2 linked regions of the Homo sapiens genome follow. The main gene of each other region encodes a partner of the protein of the gene in region 2 in a complex. Each region holds a gene or a part of one and is shown on either strand. Other genes may lie near its edges. The genes, in order: REV1 and POLH.

What was found.
Region 1: the proteins of POLH (region 2) and REV1 are in contact, whole or in part, in an NMR structure (PDB 2LSK), measured with the Homo sapiens proteins. Residues at the interface, in NP_006493.1 of Homo sapiens: Thr528, Glu529, Pro530, Phe531, Phe532, Lys533, Lys535, Ser536, Leu539; in NP_057400.1 of Homo sapiens: Asn1158, Leu1159, Ala1160, Gly1161, Leu1171, Leu1172, Trp1175, Ile1179, Asp1181, Pro1182, Met1183, Glu1185, Asp1186, Gln1189, Val1190.

What each region holds. Positions count from the first base shown.
Region 1 is NC_000002.12:99,397,391-99,410,127, forward strand, and holds the end of REV1 (DNA repair protein REV1), read right to left. Parts: intron 10,742-12,737; coding exon 10,639-10,741; intron 9,101-10,638; coding exon 8,935-9,100; intron 8,717-8,934; coding exon 8,520-8,716; intron 7,288-8,519; coding exon 7,054-7,287; intron 6,426-7,053; coding exon 6,305-6,425; intron 5,717-6,304; coding exon 5,499-5,716; intron 5,411-5,498; coding exon 5,254-5,410; exon of another isoform or gene 4,957-5,253; coding exon 4,854-4,956; intron 3,963-4,853; coding exon 3,851-3,962; 3' UTR 3,087-3,850; downstream 1-3,086. Other genes in the region: EIF5B (eukaryotic translation initiation factor 5B), read left to right, coding at 1,358-1,519, 1,917-2,024. UniProt on the Homo sapiens protein: Deoxycytidyl transferase involved in DNA repair. Transfers a dCMP residue from dCTP to the 3'-end of a DNA primer in a template-dependent reaction.
Region 2 is NC_000006.12:43,574,287-43,587,023, reverse strand, and holds the start of POLH (DNA polymerase eta), read right to left. Parts: upstream 10,840-12,737; 5' UTR 10,584-10,839; intron 4,709-10,583; 5' UTR 4,705-4,708; coding exon 4,568-4,704; intron 4,018-4,567; coding exon 3,883-4,017; intron 1-3,882. Other genes in the region: XPO5 (exportin-5), read left to right, coding at 11,160-11,264. UniProt on the Homo sapiens protein: DNA polymerase specifically involved in the DNA repair by translesion synthesis (TLS). Due to low processivity on both damaged and normal DNA, cooperates with the heterotetrameric (REV3L, REV7, POLD2 and POLD3) POLZ complex for complete bypass of DNA lesions.

The sequences.
Region 1 (12,737 bases), on a different chromosome or scaffold from region 2:
TTTTGGTAACTCTCCCCACCAATCTGGCCCAGTGCCCTGCAAGCTGCATTGCACTGGGGCTTGTTTTGTGGCTGAGCCTCAGTCAAGAACAGTCCTCCATTCTTTTTGAAGTGTCCCTGTTGTTTTGCAAATCCCTCCTCCATTTGGATTTATCTGTTTCTCTCCCTCCCAACTAGACACAGGTTAGAATTATTGGAAAGACACTCATGCAGTTTCCCTGTGTGCCTGCCTCTTGCATGACCCAGCCTGTCTGACTGCTGCTGATGCTCTGATTTCCTGGGGAAAGTGCTAGACGCCAACCATCTCCATTAGAAACTTGCCCCTTTATAATTACTCTGTAATCTGTCTGGTACCTGGAGTTCCTAATGGATATCCTGTTTCTCAACAGCCTTTATCCCAGTGCCTTTAGTACCCACTGGCAAGCGTTGCCTAAGTCAACTATTACGTAGATGGTTGCAAAATTGTGGATATACCTGTCCCCCCATTTCTTACAAAGAACCTCTTCCCACTGACCTTTTTATTGAGTCATAGACTCAGTGGGTTTTTTTTTTTTTAATATAATCCATTACCTTTATTCTTTTGATACTCAGATTTTCTATTGTGGTCAGTAGGAGCTCAACTGGCTCCTGTATCCTTGACACACAGCAGTCTGAGCATCATCTTCCTTTCTGGTTGAGATGTTCCAGCCTCATCTAGTACTTTCCCTGGCCCAAACCTGGTTCTTGTAATGGGCAATGGCACTTAGAAGTTGTCATTGCTTTTCTACCATTTCAGTGGACTAAGCCTGGACATTTATTTGTGTTACTTTCTATGTGGCTTTGGCCTCCTAAACCAACCAGAGCTCTCCCTGTTTTCACTCTTACTCTCCTGAATCTTTTTCTCCACAAAGGAGTCAGGGTTTTTTGCCCCAAACTCTGAGATCACATCACTCATCTGCTCACAGGCCATCATTCTTAAAATTTCAGGATTGGTCCTCACTCTGACTTCATTCCCATCAGCCACTTCAAGCTCATTCCTGACTCAGACCCTTTGTGCCTGCTGATCCCTCCTATTACGGCACCTGTCACGTGAAATGGTAGAGCAAAAATAGGAAATGACATTGGGTCAACAGGGCACTTGGAATGTTTTGCAAAGCACATTATCTCCTGTCATTCTTACAACCATCATGAAGGGAATAGGGTGTTGGTGGTGCCAGCCTAGTTTACCAAAATGTTACACCGTGAGTGATGAAAGGATCGCACTGCCATGACTTTTAAAACAGGCTTTTGCTCTAGTTCTTACTTCAGCTATCCAGCCATGGCGCCTGTGATTGGCATGAATTCTTCTGCATGCATTTTAATTTGTTCTTATTTTATAGTTTGTTGACATCGGAATAGTAACAAGTATTGAAATAAACCATAAACAAGTGGATGTTGCAAAAAAAGGACAAGAAGTTTGTGTAAAAATAGAACCTATCCCTGGTGAGTCACCCAAAATGTTTGGAAGACATTTTGAAGCTACAGATATTCTTGTTAGTAAGGTAAGTATTTCAGCAAAAGTGGCACACTTTAAGCAACAGGGAATCACTCTTCTTGGGTCACCTGTACCTGTAGCTCCTTGGGCTTCAGTTTGATTGTAGAATCTGATGGGACTGGATCCCCCATTAGGGCTTGACCTCTAGCTGGGCCTTGTCTGTTGAGGAAGTTGCTCTATCAGGAAAGCAGCACCAACAGAGAAAGCTAGGACTTTTAGGTCCCCTCGTGCCTGACATGCAAACCAGATGTGATTTTGGAATTCTACTCCCTTAGGCAGGCAAGCCCTGTTTTTTATTTCTGCTTAAGCTTTTTAGTACAGTGAGAGCGGGCATCTGGGGCCACAGCTTTCTTTGGCACGTTTGTTATGTTCTGTTTACCCTGTTTGTGCCTCGGGCATTGCAGATCAGCCGGCAGTCCATTGATGCACTCAAAGACTGGTTCAGAGATGAAATGCAGAAGAGTGACTGGCAGCTTATTGTGGAGCTGAAGAAAGTATTTGAAATCATCTAATTTTTTCACATGGAGCAGGAACTGGAGTAAATGCAATACTGTGTTGTAATATCCCAACAAAAATCAGACAAAAAATGGAACAGACGTATTTGGACACTGATGGACTTAAGTATGGAAGGAAGAAAAATAGGTGTATAAAATGTTTTCCATGAGAAACCAAGAAACTTACACTGGTTTGACAGTGGTCAGTTACATGTCCCCACAGTTCCAATGTGCCTGTTCACTCACCTCTCCCTTCCCCAACCCTTCTCTACTTGGCTGCTGTTTTAAAGTTTGCCCTTCCCCAAATTTGGATTTTTATTACAGATCTAAAGCTCTTTCGATTTTATACTGATTAAATCAGTACTGCAGTATTTGATTAACCAAGCTTCTGCAGATTTTGTGATTCTTGGGACTTTTTTGACGTAAGAAATACTTCTTTATTTATGCATATTCTTCCCACAGTGATTTTTCCAGCATTCTTCTGCCATATGCCTTTAGGGCTTTTATAAAATAGAAAATTAGGCATTCTGATATTTCTTTAGCTGCTTTGTGTGAAACCATGGTGTAAAAGCACAGCTGGCTGCTTTTTACTGCTTGTGTAGTCACGAGTCCATTGTAATCATCACAATTCTAAACCAAACTACCAATAAAGAAAACAGACATCCACCAGTAAGCAAGCTCTGTTAGGCTTCCATGTTAGTGTAGCTTCTCTCCCACAAGTTGTCCTCCTAGGACAAGAATTATCTTACAAACTAAACTATCATCACACTACCTTGTATGCCAGCACCTGGTAACAGTAGAGATTTTTATACATTAATCTTGATCTGTTTTAATCTTGATCTGTTTTAGTAGAGATTTTTATACATTAATCTTGATCTGTTTTAATCTTGATCTGTTTTGTCCTAGAAAATTCCATCATACACACATTTCCTGATATTTGGGCTTAGTGCTTCTAAATTGTTGCAGACACAAAACTTAATGATTCATTCGTAGTAGTAATCTGTAGCTAGTTTTAGGGTTTTGCTGAAGTCAGTGTGGGGTGTTTGTTTGAGGAAAAAGTTCCAAATATCCACTAGCATAGAATTTTAAACTATTTTTATTTTAAAGTTATGGCATAACATATAACATAAAAATATTTTATATACGTTTGAAAAATCTATACCGTTCTTTTTTATCATCAAAGTTTCTCAATGGCCAGTAGAAGCAAAAAGACAACACCACCTCTGATCTACGGGACATAATGTTCCCAGGAAAAAAATCTTCAAGTGGGTGTGAGGGTGTTTCTAATTCAAAATATGTAGATTTCTCCGCATGGAAGAAGTAGTAAAGATTTTCTTAACATGCTCCTGTGTTCATGCTTGGAGACAAGAATAAGATGGTTTAGAAGCTTTACCCTTTCTTGGAACAAGTAGAATCCCGGTCTGAGACCTCTCAGGAATTTCAGAGCTTAGCAGTCTGGCCTGGAGGTTTTTCAGCCTTTTAGTATAATAAACAGTAGTTGCTTCCTAGAGTTGAGTTTTTAAGGATTCACAAAAAGGAGCCTGTACAAAATATACATACAGTTCTTTATTAAACAACTGTAAACACTTCACTGTAAAAATCCATAAAACTTTATAAACAAACATTTTGTAAATAGAATCTATGCTACAGTAAAATAATTAACACAATTATTTACATGCAATACTGACAAATTTGGCACTTTTTGAAAAGAAATGTACAAAACACTTGCTTTAAAAGAAATTTAAAATTATAAAAACTCCGAGCATTACTATCATGCACTTTGCAAATACCTCACAAGCACTTATGGCACAGCTATCAGAGAGCATCAGGCTCTCTGGTAATATTTATGTAACTTTTAATGTGCTTCCATAAGTTTGTTGTAAAACCACCTGGACATTGTCAAGAATAAAGTCAAATGCCATATTCCAAACCGATTCCACCGATTGCTGCATCAGCCTAAAGGTGGGGAGAGAAGAAATGTCATTAGGAATTAGGAAAGGTCCTTAAGACTAATTATTCCTTTTTATATATAAAAATTGACTTTGGCAAAAAAAAAAAAAAGTCCTGGCCAGGTGCGGTGTGGCTCATGCCTGTAATCCCAGCACTTTGGGAGGCCGAGGAGGGCGGATCACCTGAGGTCAGGAGTTTGAGACCAGCCTGGCCAACATGGTAAAACCCCGTCTCTACAAAAAATAGAAAAATTAGGTGGGCATGGTGGCACATGCCTATAATCCCAGCTACCCGGGAGGCTGAGGCAGGAGAGTCACTGGAACCCAGGAGGCAGAGGCTGCAGTAAGCCAAGATCCTGCCACTGCACTCCAGCCTGGGCGACAGAGTGAGACTCCATCTCAAAAAAAATAAAATCCTAGAACACTCAAATTTTTTTTTATTTTGTTTTGAGACAAGCTGTCGATCAGGCTGGAGCCATGCAGTGGTGCAATCATGGTTCACCGCAGCCTCCACCTCCCAAGTAACTGGGACCACAGGTGGGCACCACCACCCCCCCAGATTATTTATTTTTTGTATTTTTCAGTAGAGATGGGGTTATGCCATTTTGGCCAGGCTGGTCTCAAACGATCCACCCACCCCAGCCTCCCGAAGTGAAGTACAGGCGTGAGCCACTGTGCCCAGCCCACTTCCTATGGTTTTTTAATCACATGTAAGACCTTGAGGGCAACATATTTGGAACCTTATTTGCTACTTAGTCAACATGGCAAAATAAAGGATATCACTTTCTCATTAACCCTAATGAGTACAGTTTCCCAGAAAGTTTAAAACAACTCAGTACACCCTCAGCCATTGTGACATGCCATTTTTTCCCATTTGATAAAAGTGATGAATTACTACCTTTTCATGTATTTTATAACTAGATCCAGTTTTTCCAAATCTTTTTCTTCTATTAGATCAGTACAGTATTTCACAACTTGGAGAATGTCTTCTTCCATTGGATCTAGGAAGGGGGAAAAACTTCAAATGAGGACCAGTCTTTTTGAAGGAGAAAGTCAGAGATCTGCATGGATAAAGGAAAACTGCATTTCTACAACTATGTCACTAACAGCTATCAAAGGAATGGGCTTTGTTACTTTTCAAAGCAAGTCCCAGAATTTAAAAGATTTGGGGGTAGCTGCTTTAAGCTTATCAGAGTTAGAGAAATGGGTTAAATCTGCATAGTTTAGTCTGTTTATGTTCTCAAATCATGAGACGACTACATCTCAGCCTTGGGCCATCTAACACAGGCCAAGCCAACCTGAAATTGTAGTTATCCATTCTCTGAGCAAGGTCTTCACATCATTGAATTCAACAGCTCCAGCTAGATTGGGTGCTGGAGGTCTCACACAGCCAGCTGGGTCAGACTGCAAACTAGAAAGGCCTGGCACACCTGAAGTAGAAGCAGAGAGTTCTTCCTGTTAAGAAAACAAAGGATAAAATTGCTATATTCACACATTATCCAGGTATATTAAGATCTCATAAAGGTCAAAGTTAAGGAATTACCAGGGGTTTCTCTGCAGGAGGTCCTTCATGTTTTAGAAACCCATCAATTAACTTCTGGGGACTGCCACAGGCCCCTGGCAGAGTTTTTGCAGGACTGTTAAGCAGCTTGTTATTCAAAGGACTCTGAATCCTTTTTGGTGAACCAATGGTTTTTTTCTTCTTGTTTCTTTTCTTTTCTTTCACTGCTGCCTTTAGATGAAGTAAAGGATTCTTTGGCACTAAGAGCAGATGGATATAAGATCCTCAACAAAATGATAGTATGGATAGTCTGGATGACAGTATTGGGTTCTCTTTTCTCCTCCCAAATACAACAGGCTCCCTAGCCTACACCTCCCCTCCTGCCCCAAGTGAGAGGCAGTGAATGGCAATGGCCCAAAGTACAGGCTCTCCAATTCTCTCTTTGCTTTGCCACTTACTAATTTGACCTTTGGCATGTTGCTCATCTATGATGGGTAGTACTAAATGTGGGTTTGATGTTTGTGATGCATTTTGAACCAACATCCTTTAATGTATTCATCTCAAAGGACAACTAGCTGAACAAGTATTTAAGACATTTGTGGTAATGTCCTATTCCAACTTTTTAAAAAGTAAAAAGTGGTGTGTTTAAATCCTGAAAGTACAGACACAAATCCAACTAGAAATATGATGATATTTACTCATACTGTATACTTCAGATATTATCCCAATATGAAGAGCTCTTAATGCAACAGCTTAGACTTTGCCCATTATATACTGCAATAATTAGACAACAGTGACTCCATTACTCTTTGTCTTCATTTTTGTTACATGCCACTTCCAAGGCTCACCAGATGCGCTGGCTGACTGCTGGTGAGTGCTGTTCTCGCCCTGCCTTTGTCTTTGATCATACGCTGCTTTCAGCTCCCTCTGAAGTTCAGCAGGAAGGGCAGCAAATACCTCAGGGTCCACCTAGTGGAAAAGACGAGGTCAAAGTCAAACCTGAGCTAATTGTAGATGGTAGCTGGTTTCTCTTTTTCACAAAACAGACTTTGTTTTCAAATCTCACTTTTCTGATCTGTACGAATTCTTAACAGTTCCCCAATATCAAAGCTGATTAAATCTTCAAAATGGTTAGAGCAAGAATAAGGAATTAAGAGCAAGAATAAGGAATTAAGAGTACTAACTTAAAGAAACCCACTACAACAGCAGAACCTGGGCAAAATGCACTAGTAGAAAATGGGAAGCAAAACATTGAAACAGGGACTCAGGTTGTTACTGTCCCCCATGCAGGATTATACATCTCCGCTCTGTTGTATTCAAGTGTGGCCATTGATGTGTTTGCCCCAGATCAGTGTGTTTCTGTCTTAGCATGCCCTCCCCCGTCTCTTCCCTGCTGCTTCAGCGGGAGGCTGCTCTGTGTCTACATCCTGCAGATGCAGGAGATGGAGACAAGCCCACTCTCCCCTCCCCTCCCCTCCCCTCCCCAGTGGATGTGGTGTCAGATACAGAGGAGAAAGGGAAGTGAGACAGGTCCTAAGTTGGAGCAGGGGGGTGAGAATATTGAAACTACAGCAGAGGGTTCCCATATTTAACTTACCTGTGAAAATGCTGGAAGGGCTATTAAATTTATTCCTGCGTCACTGTTCGATTCTTGAGGTTCTGGTATTTGCAACAAGACTGTCCCAACTGGTTGTGGCAAAATTCCTGTATTACAGCCATTTACTGGTTCTTTCTTTTTGTCGCCATGTGACTCTGCTTGCTGGACAGCACAGACTTGCTCTACTTGTTCCCGGAGATCAGGTGGAAGTGCTTCTAAAACAGACTGATCCAGCTATAAAATGCCAAACATATGAGTAGGAAGTTAAAGCATGCTCAGAGATGAGGTGTTTGGGAGTTAACACGCCACTTTAAATTTCAATTTGAATACTGTGGATAATCAATGTAAGGTACAGACCATCAAGCTAGGAAAGCCACCTCCAAATCAGCACATTTTTGGAACGTCTTGGCCTTTTGTCATTGAAGCCTGAAGTACTATGTGTAGTCTGGAAAGAAGTGTATATATACTACCAGCCACTATCACATGACCAGGTAAGTCCAAATATACTCACAGAATGTCCTGCAATTGGGGCCAACAGATATGAATAGCCTTGGTGAAGCTCAAATTAGATCCCACCCCAGGGAGGGGTGAAGGCCTGAGGCACATGTTAAAATTCTGGACAGGTAACAGTCCTGGGTCAAAAGTTCACCTTTCAGATGAGAGACTGCCCAAAAATACAAATAATTCTACTCTGAGAGCAGCACACTGGAAGAAAGGGTTTCTAGAAGCTGAATTTTCTCTAACTTACAGGACAGAATCCACTGTTCCTTTGGCCAGGGCCTACCTGTGCATCCACATCTGGCCCTTTGGAAACATGCAATCCCATCAACTGGGTGGACCAATCTTATCTTGCCAGGAGTAACTAATTGTGGGTATCTGTCGCCATACAAGCATATCAGCATTGCCCTTTCCCCTAGTTTTGCAGCCAGTATTTAACATCTCCTTCCGCCTCCTTCCATGCAGGGGGAGCAGAGGCACAAATAAACTTGCCCAATATAGCTTAAGGTGCTACCTTACTTTCAAGGACCAGCAGTATATCACATGTACAGCCCACACACGCTGAATTAAACCATCCAAATCTCCAGAGACCTGTTTGCAAATACTGCAAAAACCCTTCGACATAAGGCCTCTACTTCACCACTAATCACCAAAGCTGCCTTGCTGAATACAGTAAGTCTGCATGATGACCACTGTCACAGACAATGGCAGTCCACAGGAGGACTGCCTTTCAGCTATGCTTTACAACTTGCAAGAGTGGCAAATCTTTGCAAAAGCACTTTCACTCAACCCAAATATTGCTTATTTAGAATCCAACATCATGATCTACCCAAACAAGTGGCCCGTTCTCCCTTTCTTGGTTAAACGGATGAAGAAATAAAAATGCCATTTTCATTTGTAAACTTGTATTTTTGTATTTATATTTAGGAGTATAAAATGTACTTATATTTAGGACTACAAAAATGTACCTGGGAAGGTGACGGGACCTCTATACTCAGGTTAAGTCTCGACTGCACACTGACAGGAGTATGTAGACCATTCCATTTCCCTGAAGACTCAGCCTTGTTAGTATCAGGACTGGTCGGCAGATGTGCAGGAAAAGGTGGCAAGAAAGTGCAAGTTCTAGAAGCAGATGATATTTCCAGATCCACAGCAGCCCGAAATACTACAAAAAGAAAATATATAAAATAGCCTCTTCAGATCATCGGGCAGGGCCTTTAATCCTCTGTCCATTACAAATAAAAAAACTTTATTACTGATTCATCATAATGAAGAATATAAATTTTTAAAATCACATAAAGCTGTGTCAATTTTAAAACCAACTGCCGTCTTTCCAAGGACATAAGCAGCACCTAAAAAAGAACCACATTGATGACCACCAACCTTCTTTGTGCTCCTCTTCGGTGGATTTCTTAGCTTTCTGAACTTGGAAGACATCACGGACAGAGTATGACCCACTAGGAAAGTGGCTTGACTGAACTGATGGGCGACTGGGACATGTGGAAGGGTTCAGATTAGTTGGAACCAACTGATTCACGTGAATCCCAACCTAGAACCCAGAATAAAGAGTATGCTTCTAGGAAAACTAAAGTGAAAATATGAATTCAGCTAAGCAAAATCCTCAGCAAATCCTTTTCACTATCTCCTGGATCCTGTTTCTAGAATAAAGGTAAATGAAAGTATTCAAACAGCATTCTATATGACTTATTACAAAAACAATTTCTAAAGTAGCTAGTGAGTGGTCATTCATCTCAAACTTCAGAGTATCCAATTCTCCCAAAATATACCAAAAGATCTTTAAAATCAGAAAATCCAAACAAGTGGAATACTGTATTCCACTGATGTTCTCGTCAACTAAGGTTTTAAATTAGGATAAAAAAAAATTAAGAGAGGACAGTCTACTTGGAAACTTCACTATTTTTATCTTTTTTAAATGAAATACTTCTCAAAAAATATTGGCGGGAGTGATGAACAGCAGGTACACTGCAGACCCCTCCATAAAGTGCCATTATAACAGTATTTCAGGGAGAAATCACAATTACGGCTGGCTTAGTGACTAATCTTTCAACAAAGCCCACATCAAGCCAGAACAACCCTTTACTTACATATGCACACATAAAACTAAACCTACAAAGGTTCTTTTTTTTTTTTTTTTTTTTTTTTTTTGAGACAGAGCCTCACTGTGTCACTCAGGCTGGAGTGCGGTGGCACGATCTTGGCTCATGCAAGCTCTGCCTCTTGGGTTCAAGTGATTCTCCTGCCTCAGCCTCCCGAGTAGCTGGGACTATGAGGCATGCACCACCACACCCGGCTAATTTTTGTATTTTTAGTAGAGATGGGGGCAAGTGCCTGTAATCCCAGCACTTTGAGAGGCTGAGGTGGGTGGATCACCTGAGGTCAGGAGTTTGAAACCAGCCTGGCCAACATGGTGAAACCTCATCTCTACCAAAAATACAAAAAATTAGCTGGGCGTGGTAGCGGGTGCCTGTACCCCCAGCTACTCGGGAGGCTGAAGAAGGAGAATTGCTTGAACCCAGGAGGCGGAAGTTGCAGTGAGCCGATACAACGCCATTGCACTCCAGCCTGGGCAACAGGGCAAAAACTGTCTCAAAAAAAAAAAACCCCACACAAAAATCTATGGTTTTGACATTTTGATGCCTCTTGCCTGTTTCAAAGGCATCTTGATGTGCCTGTGGTTTCACTCCCTTCTAGGTCATCATACAGCAGATGCAGAGTATGTTTCTGATTAAAAAGGAACTTAAAGGTACAAAATTTATGTATTCATATTCCTCACAGTCATATCTACTTCTAGGAAACAAGAACAGGGAAGACATGTATATTAGCCCCTGGTTAATCAGGGGTACCTTGGAAAAGTACAGTAAGAATCTAAGAAAATTATTCTAAAATGAAGGAGGTCAAAATGGAGGAAGTCAAGAATTTTTGTTTCTCTTTTCCTTGTATTACAAAGCAGCTAAAGACCTACATATAAAGTCCCTATACACCAGCAATAACCCTTTTGAGAGCAAGCCTCAAAAATGAGAGATACATTACACAAAGTCAGAATTTACAATGTTACTATATACTTACCCCTCTCATATCTGATATATTTAGTTTCATTGTATGAAACATGTTTAGCATCGCCTTTCCAATTATTTTTGCATTATCTGTTGCCTGGTCAAGAGTTACAGTCCTGTAAGTGATAGAATTAAAAAACAAAAGCTTCATTCCATATGTATTCACTAGTACTAAAGTAGTATGGAACTGTTTAAAAGAGTTATAGAAAAGTTGTAAACAGTTACAAAGAAGATTATAAAAGTGAATGCCATAGTCTCCCTTCAAGGAAGCCAGAAATACCAAATTAGTTACACTGGCAACCAAGGGGGAAAGAAAAATTATGGAACACTAGAACTTTAAGGTAAAAACCGTAATGGACACTTAGGTCAACTAAAAATAAGTTGAGAAATTTAGAAAAAGGTAGATTTTAGCTAACATATGCACAAATAAATACATATTTTCCAGCTAAAGCACAAGTGAATGGTAAACACAATGTTCTTGATTCCAAGAGAAGTTTTAGGTTCCAAGATTATGTATGCTGAGGTATAGCAAATATTCAGAAGAGAAAGATAAATTCTCTGTATGTTGTTTCTTGACTCTCCTTTCATTGTGTTTACAGTACAGCCAATAAACAATTCTTAGATCTTTAAGAACTCTTGAAGGAGGACCAAATGGTCCATCAGCATTATTAGGTCTCAAAGATGTGCTGACCTCACCCACCATTTCCTTCAGAGCCTTTTGAGCTTCTCTGGCATGAGCGGGCTGTCCCATTGCAAACAGAATTACTAACTCAGTAACAGATTAACAAATTACTACCAGTTCTCTTTCCAAAGGAAAGTTATTTCGTGTTTTGGATGATCCTTTCCATGTATAATGAACAAATGAAGTTCCAGGCCATTAAACAAGAAATATTCCCAGAAAAAATTATTATAAATTGAATTGGATTTTCCCATAGAAATGTTTAAGAAGATAATCACATTACTTCATCTGCTTATAGAAATAACCACTAAAAGCTGAGCACAGTGGCTCACACCTGTAATCCCAAAACGCTGGGAGGTCAAGGCAAAAGGATTGTTCAAGGCCAGCCTGGGCAACAGAGCGAGATCCTGTCTCTACATAAATAAGTTTTTAAAGTAAATAAATAAATGACCACTATTTACTATTTGAGATACATGTGTATCATAACAGGTAGGTAAATATAATTCAAGATAACCAACTGATAAAAAATGTATTTTATAAATTATGTTCTCTAATTGTAATTTATAATTCCTGCTTTCATGGTAACTTGGGAGTTTCTCTGTTTAAGAGCAGTCGTCTCACGACTTAGCAATATCATCATATACATGAATGCACCATGTATGGTTGGCATGAGCTAATCTTTAATGAAACTATACTTCATATTGTAAGTAGCTTTCAGTGTCAAAAGTCTCAAAATTTTGGTTTCACAGATGAAATACAGTGCAATATAAAATGACATGTAAAACCACACATCTTCATATTGGTCACGAATCTTACATGAAGTTTAATATTAAGTAGTTGGCCCTGACATAAAAGACGAGTGTTTCAGACCGGGCACATTGGCTCATGCCTGTAATCCCAACACTATGGGAGGCTGCGGTGGGCGGATCATTTGAAGTCAGGAGTTCAAGATCAGCCTTGCCAACATAGTGAAACCCTATCTCTACTGAAAATACAAAAATTCGCTGGGCATGGTGGCATGCCCCATAATCCCAGCTACCCAACAGGCTGAGACAGGAGGATTGCTTGAACCCAGGAGGTAGAAGTTGCAATGAGCCGAGATCGCACCACTGCCCTCAGGCCTGGGTGACAGAGCCAGACTCTGTCTCAAAACAAACAACCCCCCCCCCCCCCAAAAAAAACAGCGTTTTTAAATGCTTTTACCAGTTTTCAGACATTACAGTGATTCATTCATCTTTTTACCAATTAAATGTATACACCTATGTAAATGAAGTTGCTCTCCTTCACCATCATTTTTCTAGCTACTATAGTCTGCCTTTGTGTATCATTTTTTTGAGACAGAATGTTGCTCTGTTGCCCAGGCAGGAGTGCACTGGCGCGATCTCAGCTCACTGCAACCTCTGCCTCCTGGGTTCAAGCAATCCTCCTGCCCC
Region 2 (12,737 bases):
GCATTCAGACTATGAACACGTCTATATGACAAGGAACTCTCTAAAAAATAAAGAAATGCCTCAAATTTGTGTATTACTATGATCACCTATTCCTTTTATTTTCATATATCCACCAAGAAATCTTCTGCTTCTAATTTTGTCTTCAAAAAAAGGGTAATTTACATGCAACACTGCACTGATCAGTGAACCAGAGTATATGGTCTTCCCCAGGATAGTATTTCTCACCATAAATTAACAAACTGGCATATGGATTTTATACTTCAGTCAACGGTGAGTTTGGTTAACATGTGAACTGGTCATCACCACATACACACACATGCCTTAACCAACCATTTACGGATATACTAATATTCAAATGATCAAGTTGAAGATAAGCACCTAGAATGTGGTGATGTGTCTGGGCAGGCAGACAACCTTCCTCAGGGTATACATACCAATCTCATCGTATGTCTTCTATTCAAACTTTAATAAGCAGCTCTTCTGGCTCTATACCTAGTTTTCTACGACAATATACAGATATTTTCTTTTTTTTCTTGTTTTTCGAGATGAAGTCTCGCTCTTGTCTCCCAGGCTGGAGTGCAATAGTGGCATCTCGCCTCACTGCAACCTCCACCTCCCGGGTTCAAGCAATTCTCCTGCCTCAGCCTCCCAAGTAGCTGGGATTACAGGCGCCTGCCACCACGCCTGGTGAATTTTTTTGTATTTTTAGTAGAGACAGGGTTTCACCATGTTGGCCAGGCTGATCTCGAATTCCTGACCTCAGGTGATCCACCCACCTCGGCCTCCCCAAGTGCTGGGATTACCGGCGTGAGCCACCACATCCGGCCAATATACAGATATTTGCTTTCCTTTGGCTTGGACCTGCTTTGTAGTGTCCAGTTCTTTGTTCCTATTGACTTTATATTTACCATAAAAATGAAAACATCGGTACCTCTTCACCATGACACCCATAAAAACTAATATAATTATTGTTCTAAAACACTCTCAAATTAGAGAATTAGAGAAATACTTGACTTTTTTTTTTTTTAAATCATTATTTGAACTAGGAAGAGGATAGGCCTCAAAGAAAATAAAGAGCAAGATCGGGCGCAGCAGTTCACACCTGTAATCCCAGCACTTTGGGAGGCAGAGGTGGGTGGATCACCTGAGGTCAGGAGTTCGAGACCAGCCTGACCAACATGGAGAAACCCCATTTCTACTAAAAATATAAAATTAGCCAGCACGGTGGCACATGACTGTAATCCCAGCTACTCGGGAGGCTGAGGCAGGAGAATCACTTGAATCCAAGAGATGGAGGTTGTGGTGAGCCGAGATTGCACCATTGCACCCTAGCCTGGGCAACAAGAGTGAAACTCCGTCCCCCACCCACAAAAAAAAAAAAAAAAAGAAAAGAAAGAGCAATATACTCATACACACAGCCAGAAAAGGATACTTATAATATTGTGAAATATATATTCGGTCTTCATCCCAGTTTCCTGGCATACAACTCCAAAAATCCTTGGAATCACCCAAGTTTTGTCTTTTTGTATGCTAATGTTAACTAATAGCTTCAGGATAGGGCAGGTCACCAAAAAGACCACGGCATAATTAGAGGGTTGGGACTTTTGGCCCCACCCCCTCAACTTCTGGGGAGGGGAGAGGAAGAGAGATACTGCAGGTCAAGTTGATTACCCATAGCCAATGGTTTAATCAGTCATGAGTACATAACGGAGCCTCCCTAAAAACCCAAGAGGACAGGGTCCGGAGAGGTTCCAAATAGCTGTAATAGTAGAGATTCCTGGAGGGTGGCTCACCCAGGGAGGGCATGAAAGCTCCGCACCCCTTCTCACATGCCTTGCTCTATATATCTCTTCATCTTCATCTTCTTTTTGACAGGATCTCACTGTTGCCCAGGCTGCATGCAGTGGTTTGATCATGACTCTCTGGAACCACAATCTCCTGGGCTCAAGCGACCCTCCCACCTCAGCTTCCTGAGTAGCTGGAACTAGAGCTGCACAACACCATGTCTAGCTAAATTTTTTTGTTTTTGTTTTTGTTTTAATTTTGGTAGAGACGAGGTCTTACTATGTTGCCCAGGCTGGTCTCAAACTTCTGAGCTCAAGCAATCCTCCTGTCTCAGCCTCCCAAAGTGCTAGGATTACAGGCGTGAGCCACCATGCCCAACCTATCTGTATCCTTCGTAATATCCCTTATAATAAACATAAGTAAGTGTTCTCCTGAGTTCTGTGAGTCGCTTCAGCAAATTAATCAAATCCAAAGAGGGGGTTGCAGGAACCCCAACTTAAAGCCAGCTGTTCAGACGTTCTAAAGGCCTGGACTTGTGATGGAAAGGAAGGAGGGGGTGTTCTTGTGGTATTGAGCCCTCAACATGTGGAATCTGATGCCATCTCCAGGTAGACAGTGTTGGAATTGAGTGCGAGGACATGCAGCTGGTGTCTGCTGATTGGTGTGTGGGGAAATACTTCCACACCTTTGGTCACAGATGTCTTCTGTGTTGATTGTTCTTGTGGTGTGAGAGGAGAGGAAAACCATAGTTTGAGTTTTTCTAAAACAATACTCTATTTCAGTGCTTCCTCACAGCCTCTTGAGCAAATCACTGCAAGGTATTTTTAAGAGTATTTGGAAAACTTAATCTTCAGTCAAGTCTATCTTCTTTTCTAGCAATAATTCCAATGTGGGTCTGTATGCCACTCTACCTTTAGACTTCTAATTCATAGAATTAGAATTAGAATTCAGAAGTATGTCAGGTCCTAAGTCAAAGCATGATTCCTATACCACAACACATAGTATAGTGTACCTTGAGAACATAGATACTAGAATCTTAAAAAACAGATGTGAATCCTCAGTCTTTCACTTAGCTGTCTGAACTTTTCTCTTTCTTGAGACAGGGTCTCACTCTGTCACCCAGACCGGAGTGCAGTGGTGTGATCTGGGCCCACTGCAACCTCTGCCTCCCAGGCTCAAGCAATCCTCTCAACTCAGCTTCCTGAGTAGCCGGGACTGCAAGTGTGTGCCACCATGCCTGGCTAATTTTTGTATTTTCTGTTAGAGATGGGGTTTCCCCATGTTGCCCAGGCTGGTCCCTATGTTGCCCAGGCTGGTGTCCTGGACTCAAGTGATCTGCCCGCCTCAGCCTCCCTAAATGCTAGGATTACAGGCATGAGCCACCATCCCCAGCCTAACTTAAATTATTTAACTTCTCTGAACTTGATTCCTTATCTGTGAAGGGGGAGTAATATTAGTACCTACCTTATAACAATGTCAGATTTAATAGAGATATTGCCTATAGAGAGCTTAACACTGTGCCTGGCATGTGATAATATGTTTAATACATATTAGCTGTTAGGATTAAAGGCTGGGGTTTGTGCCTACCTCTGACTTAGCTATGCTGATTCATATCCCCCATTCCAAGGTGAAACTTCTAATATTTGCGGAGAGATAGCTTAATCTAAAAACAGAGAAATCTCCCTTGATATTGTTCAATTATAGCAACTAATTCCTGATATTGTACTACAATGTCAGTTTGACTCAGCCTTTCCTGGAAAAATTCTCAGTTTCACAGTCAATTTTTCAAATACTTTAGATTTTTGGATGGAGAACATGGGAATTGGTATTAAGTCTGAATTTAACAACCAATTTTGAACAATTAAGGAACTGAATAGATATCAAAGGCAGCAACTCTTATATGGTATAATGGTTTTGAACTGTCCCCAAAACACAATATTAAAATCTGTTTTTCATTTCACAGAGACAAGATGGCTAACCAAAAAGAATTTTTTCCGGTGTTATTTACATGGAACAAATTCAAAACACCAGTTCCTAGCCTCATGGAGTATTATTTTCGACTCCTTTATGTCTCCTTAAATAATGTTTTTTTCTTACTTGGTGAGGTTAGCTTTCCCACGGGACTCACGAACTTGTGCCAGTAGAAGATCTGGACATAACTTCTTAGCATCATCTGCCCACATACTTCTAGTGACTCCAAATGCACGAGCTTCATAACTCACTGCAATTATTCTAAGGTTAGAAAAAAAAGGAAACAGAAAACATATTATATGATCACAAGCAAAAACAAGTAACATTTAACACAAGTAATCTATAAACATATTAGAAACTTTTTGACCACAGATGCCATCATTCAATCCAAAACAAAGCAGTTCAGAAATCTCAAAAATAGGGCCAGGCACAGCAGCTCATGCTGGCAATTCCTGTACTTTGGGAGGCCAAGGCAGAAGGACTGCTTGAGGCCGGGAGTTCAAGACCTGCTTGGGCAATATAGTGAGCCCTGCCCCCCCAACCAATCCCCATCTCTACCCACCCCCCAAAAAATAAAATCAGCTTGGCATGGTGGGGCGCTCCTGTAGTTCTAACTATTTGGGAGACTGAAGAGGGATGATCACTTGAGCCCAGGTCAAAGCTGCTGTGAGCTGATGGTGCCACTGCGCTCTGGATGGGACAACAGAGAAAGGCCCTGTCACCACCACCACCACCACCACAACAACAAAGGACCTGCCACAGTGCCACTGTGTTACCATTGAATAGTTGTGACAATAACAATGATACATACCCACCACCCTTCCATGATTTGTACTGTACAACTGCACAAGGTTTATTCCTCAAATGAGGATTTTGCCGCTGCTCCACTTGAACAAAAAAACAGTCCATGTCCACGAGAGCAACCACTCGATCCTGTCCAGTAGCCATTTTTCTGTAACACAACATTTTATGGACAGTTAGAAAAACACCTAATCCAAAATGCCAGGGAAAACTGTAATTCCATTCTTTCACTGATGAGTTACCATGAGCATGGGAGCATGGAAACTAACAAGAATGAAATAGGCATTTAAATATACAGGTTGAGTATCCCTTATCTGAAATGGCTGGGATCCAAAGTGCTTGAGATTTTGCATTTTTTTCAAATTTTGCAATATTTGCATTATAATCACCAGTTAAGCATCCGTAATCCAAAAATCCTAAACCTACAATGCTCTAATAAACATTTCCTTTGAATGCTGTGTTGGTGCAAAAAATTTTTTGGATTTTGGAAGATTTCAAATTTCAGATTAGGGATACCCTGAGTGGAAAAAACAGTTTTTAAGATTCTTTCACTCGATCTTGAGAGGAGGTCGCGGCGCCGGAGGCCCTAGAAGGCTCGAAGGCGCCGCGGGCTGGGGTCGGTGGCTTAGGGAGCCCGTCCGGCCATGGTGGCCGCGGGTGGTGGTTGGCGCGGCTGCGCTGCGGCCCGGGGCAGTGCGGAGCCGGGACAGTCGCGGCGCTGACGCCCGCGGGCCCCAGCTGCAGATATGAAGCGGAGCCGCTGCCGCGACCGACCGCAGCCGCCGCCGCCCGACCGCCGGGAGGATGGAGTTCAGCGGGCAGCAGAGCTGTCTCAGTCTTTGCCGCCGCGCCGGCGAGCGCCGCCCGGGAGGCAGCGGCTGGAGGAGCGGACGGGCCCCGCGGGCCCGAGGGCAAGGAGCAGCCGCCTGCCTTGGCCTCCCAAAGTGCCGAGATTGCAGCCTCTGCCCGGCCGCCACCCCGTCTGGGAAGTGAGGAGTGTCTCTGCCTGGCCGCCCATCGTCTGGGATGTGAGGAGCCCCTCTGCCTGGCTGCCCAGTCTGGAAAGTGAGGAGCGTCTCCGCCCGGCCGCCATCCCATCTAGGAAGTGAGGAGCGCCTCTTCCCAGCCGCCATCACATCTAGGAAGTGAGGAGCGTCTCTGCCCGCCCGCCCATCGTCTGAGATGTGGGGAGCGCCTCTGCCCCGCCGCCCCATCTGGGATGTGAGGAGCGCCTCTGCCCTGCCGAGACCCCGTCTGGGAGGTGAGGAGCGTCTCTGCCCGGCTGCCCCGTCTGAGAAGTGAGGAGACCCTCTGCCTGGCAACCACCCCGTCTGAGAAGTGAGGAGCCCCTCCGCCCGGCAGCTGCCCCGTCTGAGAAGTGAGGAGCCTCTCCGCCCGGCAGCCACCCCATCTGGGAAGTGAGGAGCGTCTCCGCCCGGCAGCCACCCCGTCCGGGAGGGAGGTGGGGGGGGGTCAGCCCCCCGCCCGGCCAGCCGCCCCATCCGGGAGGGAGGTGGGGGGGTCAGCCCCCCGCCTGGCCAGCCGTGCCGTCCGGGAGGGAGGTGGGGGGGTCAGCCCTCCGCCCGGCCAGCCGCCCCGTCTGGGAGGTGAGGGGCGCCTCTGCCCGGCCGCCCCTACTGGGAAGTGAGGAGCCCCTCTGCCCGGCCAGCCGCCCAGTCCGGGAGGGAGGTGGGGGGGTCGGCCCCCCGCCCGGCCAGCCGCCCCGTCCGGGAGGGAGGTGGGGGTGTCGGCCCCCCGCCCGGCCAGCCGCCCAGTCCGGGAGGGAGGTGGGGGGGTCAGCCCCCCTGCCCGGCCAGCCGCCCCGTCCGGGAGGTGAGGGGCGCCTCTGCCCGGCCGCCCCTACTGGGAAGTGAGGAGCCCCTCTGCCCGGCCAGCCGCCCCGTCCGGGAGGGAGGTTGGGGGGTCAGCCCCCCGCCCGGCCAGCCGCCCCGTCCGGGAGGTGAGGGGCGCCTCTGCCCGGCCGCCCCTACTGGGAAGTGAGGAGCCCCTCTGCCCGGCCACCACCCCGTCTGGGAGGTGTGCCCAACAGCTCATTGAGAACGGGCCATGATGACAATGGCGGCTTTGTGGAATAGAAAGGCGGGAAAGGTGGGGAAAAGATTGAGAAATCGGATGGTTGCCGTGTCTGTGTAGAAAGAAGTAGACATGGGAGACTTTTCATTTTGTTCTGCACTAAGAAAAATTCCTCTGCCTTGGGATCCTGTTGATCTGTGACCTTACCCCCAACCCTGTGCTCTCTGAAACATGTGCTGTGTCCACTCAGGGTTAAATGGATTAAGGGCGGTGTAAGATGTGCTTTGTTAAACAGATGCTTGAAGGCAGCATGCTCGTTAAGAGTCATCACCAATCCCTGATCTCAAGTAATCAGGGACACAAACACTGCGGAAGGCCGCAGGGTCCTCTGCCTAGGAAAACCAGAGACCTTTGTTCACTTGTTTATCTGCTGACCTTCCCTCCACTATTGTCCCATGACCCTGCCAAATCCCCCTCTGTGAGAAACACCCAAGAATTATCAATAAAAAAATAAATTTAAAAAAAAAAAAAAAAGATTCTTTCACTCAACAACAATCAATAAGGTAGACTTCTGTGACCAAATGTGTGAGGATTTCTCCCCACCAACAAACAAGCAATCAATTCTGCAGCAGACACCAAGTGGGTATCCTCCAATTCGAGTCTGACATTATCTACCTGGAGAAAGCGTCAGATCTCACAGGTTGATGGCTCAGTCCCACAAGACTGCCCCCTACTTCTGATGCCAATCACAAGCCACAGGTTGTTTTACCTGTGCTTCTAACTGACTGGATATAAATTGGGAATCTCATGAGCCCCTCTTTGGGTTCAGTTAATTTGCCAGAGTGGCTCACAGAACTCAGGTAATCAAATTTACTAGTTTATTATAAAGGATATACAGATGAAGAGATACACATGGCAAGGCATGCCCTCCCTGGGAACACCACTCTCCAGGAACTTCCTTTTGCTCCTATCCAGCAGCTCTTCGAACCCTCTCCTCTTGGGCCTTTTATGGAAACTTCATTGGATAGGCATGACTGACATCCGTGTAGAAATGTGACTGGACAAAAAAGATATGATCTAATACTAATAGACTGGGGAAACCCAGCAAGGCCTGTCCAGATTCTTCCTGGCCTCTCTGGGTAGCATTCCTTTCTCCAGGGTATGGGGTAGGAACTCTTCTGAAATGAAAGTCTTATGACCCATAATCAGAAAGGCAGGGGAAGATTAGAGTCCTGCTTTGGGCAGGTGAAAGGAGGGCAGAAGGCCAGAGAGAGATTCTGTTTTCTGAGGCTTGCTTCAAGAGCTCCAACATTATAACGAAAGCTAGGGGAGTTATGAGCTAGGAACCGTGGACAAAAACTAACATACATATATCACAATATCACAGATACTCAACCTGTACTGCTGGCATAAGGATAAATTAGTACAATTTTATGAAGGCAATAGGTATTAAAAGCTTTAAAAATACTTATCCTTAAAAGAACTAACCACAAAATACAAACATAGCCAATTGGCACATAAAAATAGGCTCACCATCATTAGTCATGGGGAAATGGAAATTAAAATGCACATCACCAGGGGAAGAGAACCAATACGGAATCAGTTGACAGACAAATCTCAAGTATAAATTCAGAGAAAAGAGAAGGAGAAAATAATATATAACATCATAGCATTCATGAAAAATGTCAACCTTTTACTCTGAAATACTTTTAGACTTACAGAAAATCGCAAAAATGGTAGAGTTCTCCTACTCCCAGTTTCCTGATGTTAACATCTTACTTAACACAATTACCAAAATTTAAAAATGAACATTGGCATATTATTAACTACATACTTTACTGCCCCCCAATCTGTGGCATTTCCTCGGTTGTTCCTTGTTTTTCATGACCATGACACTTTTTTTTTTTTGAGACAAAGTCTCGCTCTTGTCCCCCCGCCAGGCTGCTTTAAATACTACTGATATTTGACTTCCACAACTATATATACTAACTTAATTGGTATGGGTATGACCTGGGCATGAGTTTTTTGTTGTTGTTGTTGTTTTTGAGTTAGAGTTTCGTTCTCGTTGCGCAGGCTGGAGTGCAATGGCACAGTCTCGGCTCACTGCAACCTACGCCTCCCGGGTTCAAGCGATTCTCCTGCCTCAGCCTCCTGAGTAGCTGGGATTACAGGCGCACGCCACCACGCCCGGCTAATTTTTGTATTTCGAGTAGAGACTGGGTTTCACCATGTTGGCCAGGCTAGTCTCTAACTCCTGACCTTAGGCGATCCACCCACCTCGGCCTCCCAAAGTGCTGGGATTACAGGCGTGAGCCATCGCGCTCGGCCTAGCATGGGGATTTTTTTTTTTCCTAGACAGAGTCTCCGTCTGTCACCCAGGCTGAAGTGCAGTGGTGAGATCTCAGCTCACTGCAACCTCCATCTCCCGGTTTCAAGTGATTCCTCTGCCTCATCCCCATTAGCTGGGACTACAGGCGCGTGCCACCCCGCCCGGCTAATTTTTTGTATTTTTAGTAGAGACGGGGTTTCACCGTGTTAGCCAGGATGGTCTCGATCTCCTGACCTCGTGATCCGCCCGCCTCGGCCTCCCAAAGTGCTGGGATTACAGGCGTGTGCCACCGCGCCAGGCCGGGGATTTTTAAAAGCTCTCCAGGTAATTCCAATATGCAGCAGTTTGGGAGCCAAGACCTAAATAAGACAATCGAAACACCAGCAATCCATGATTTAAATACGAGAAACACAGGTTATACAGTTGAGTGAGCACCCAACTGTATTCTAAAAAAAGTTTTTCAAAAACTAACATTCACCTTGAAAAAAAAAACGTCTTACAACTGCAAAGCAGGAAGGTGAGTGGAAAGAAAAATAATTAAAATCAGAGCAGTCAAAGCATTAATTCCTTATAAATTCCAATCGACCACGCCTAAAACAGGCAGAATGTGATACTTTAAACATTTACAAGTTAAAACTATAACATGCCAGAAGTCCCTCTACTTTGAAGTGGCTTTTCAGTAGTACTGGAACAGACTGAGCCAACAAATAGTATTGTAACACAAAAAAACACAGGCTAAGCACCATATTAGATCCAAATACCAGAAGTGGAGCAAGAATAGGAAGCAGTGATTTATGTTCAGCACACAATTTACTAAGCACACAATCACAAAAACAGACATGCAGACTTTAACAGATAATAAAGCTGTTGAGGTTTTCCGTTTATGTATTTACTGGAGAAAGCAAGAGCTTTATTTATTTATTTTTGAGACGGAGTTTCGCTCTGTCGCCCAGGCTGGAGTGCAAAGGCGCGATCTCGGCTCACTGAACCTCCGCCTCCCGGGTTCAAGCGATTCTCCCACCTCAGCCTCCCGAGTAGCTGGGATTACAGGCGCGCACCGCCACGCCTGTATAAAAATACTAAAAATGCAAACATAATTTTTGTATGTTTAGTAGAAACGGGGTTTCACCATGTTGGTGAGGCTGGTCTCGAACTCCTGACCTCAGGTGATCCGCCCGCCTCCGCCTCCCAAAGTGCTGGGATTACAGGCGTGAGCCACCGCGCCCGGCCAAGAGCTTTATAAAGATGGAAAATGAAGAAGACTTTCTGCCCAAGCCATGCTTTTGGATAAGGATTACACTACTTTGAAACCTTATACATAGCACTTGGCCAATTATCAAAACTGCACAAACCTTCACTGATTGCAATTATTCCCTTTAAACATCTCGAGTTACCCCAATCCGCACAAAACAAGTTTAGTGCCCACCAGGTAATAATACATCCAGGAAAGTAATTCCAAGAGAGAGGTTTAACAACTACAGGGAAAAACATACTTTTTTCTACAAGAAAAATCTTAGAAGACAGTACCAGGGCCTTATCCCTGTTAGCATGATTTATATTTCACGCAACCTTGGCCCAGTCACTGCTACATTATAAAACCAATAGCCAAGGCAACATAGAAAGTCTGAACACAGTGACAGCGAACGGTTCTAAATTTTCTTACCAAGGTAACAAACACCTGGCAAAACTGCCAGCAGCGGTTGCCGAAAATGCTGGGTTCGGTGCCTACTGGAAGGAAAATGGAAGGGCTCCTGAATATCTTTTCGCCTTTCTAGGAGCGGTCCAGTGAGTTTCGAGCGAGATTTATTCCCTGTGACGACGGAGAAACCGAGAAGGGATCGTAAAGGATCCTGCCCGGGCAACCGTCCCCAGCAGGGATCAGACGAGAGCGGCGCGCCCAGCAATGCAGCCGCCAGACTGAGGTCTGACAGCGCGCCCGCTGCGAAGGGCCGTTGACGCGGCTGCGCACCGCGGCCCTTCCGCCTCCCGCCCCGCCCACCTAGGCTCAACCTGCACACGGGAGCCGCCACTTCCGCGGGCGCGTGCGCAGTGGCGGGCCGGGCGCGTGCGCAGCGCCGGCTTCTTCCCAGCGCGAGTTGCTGCTAACGCTCCTCCTCCAGCTTCCCACCCCCGCCGCCCGCCGCGGCCCGGTACCAACGGGTGGTCTCGCCGAGGGAGCTGTCGTGCCTCGTGGTCCCGGGACTGCAGTGGTGTGCGCTCTCGGCGCGTGGCGCTAGGCATGGCGATGGATCAAGTAAACGCGCTGTGCGAGCAGCTGGTGAAAGCGGTGACGGTCATGATGGACCCCAACTCCACCCAGCGCTACCGGCTGGAAGCCCTCAAGGTAGCTGGGGTCCTGGCGTCCTGGGCCGGTCCCGACACCCTCTCCCAGCCCCAGCAGCTCCGGCGCCGCCTGTAACTGGGGTAGTCTCCCGCCCACGCGGCCCCTGGACCTCCTTTCCCAACTCCCCGGGACCTTCCCCTCGCGGCCCTCCGCGCCTCTCCCAAATCGCCGCCTTCTCTACTCGCCGCTCCTGTCCTTTGCCTGGGACACTCCGGTCCCTATGCTGCTTCTCATCTCGCCGCAGCTTCCCACAGCCCTCTCCTCCCCCTTTCCTCGCTTCTGTGCACTCTTGTCCGCAACATGACCCTCGCCCATTTTCATTCCCCAAGCCCGACATCCCCTCGCCTTCCCGAGGCGCACGTGTAGATCCCGCCCCCAACACCAGCTTCGTTCTTTATGGTCTCTCCTGCACTAAACGTTTTCCTGCTGGCCCACTCCCCTGGCCCTGACCGAGCTCCAGCCCCTCTGGTACCCTTATGCTTATATGCTTTAACATCTCGCTAACTTTCGTTTGTGTCTTGGACATTTTCCGGGGAAATTCTCGCACCCCTACTTCTCCCATGTTTTTGAGTGTAATATTTTTAGGCTATTTTGCGCAAAGATAACTTCTACCACTTACTTTGCATTTTAACAAGGGCACTTTGGTTTCCTGAAAGTAGTTTGCGTGAGACCCGAATGCTCTGCTCTTGGGACTGACTTATGTTGCAGTTTGGGGGTGTTAATACAATTCAAGCTTACTTGCCCATAAAACAACGTGTGTGGGCTGTGAGAAATGGCCATTTAGGAGAAAATACTTGTGCTGTACATTTTTAAAGTGATGTTAACTTCAAAAAAGAGAGTGACCACCACTTGGAGGAAATGTTACAATATGTAGATGTCTGCCACAGGGTTTGGAATCAGAAACAATTGGGTTCCATTAGTTTGGTTTTTATTATTAATATTTAAAATAGACACAAAAGTGGAGAGAATACGACAGTGATTCTGCATGTTCCTGTCACCTAAATTCAGCAATCAAAGATTTTACCGCATTTACTTTTTCCACCGCCTATCCTCTCTCCCTGCCTCGAAGGTTTTTAAAAGAAACCCTAGAAATTGTTATTTCACCCCTATGTACGTCAGGGGGATGTCTCTAACAAATAATTTCTTATTCCTTTGTGTCCATTTTTTTCCAACACTAGTAGGGCTACTGTTGGCCGTAGCATGGAAAAAATCTGGAACCATCACGCTGGAAGGAATGTTTATCAGTTCTTTATTCATAATATATATATAATATATACACATAAAATAGAGTGAACACCACTTGGAGGAAATGTTATATATGTGTAACTTTTATATATTTTATATTTTTATTTTTATATTAAATATATATTTTTAAAGCAACTGTGCTTGGAGATCCACATAATATTGATCTAGGTTTTGCAACTTTAAACATATAGCTTAGGTTGGAGTTTCTTTTTGAGTAGGGTCTCACTC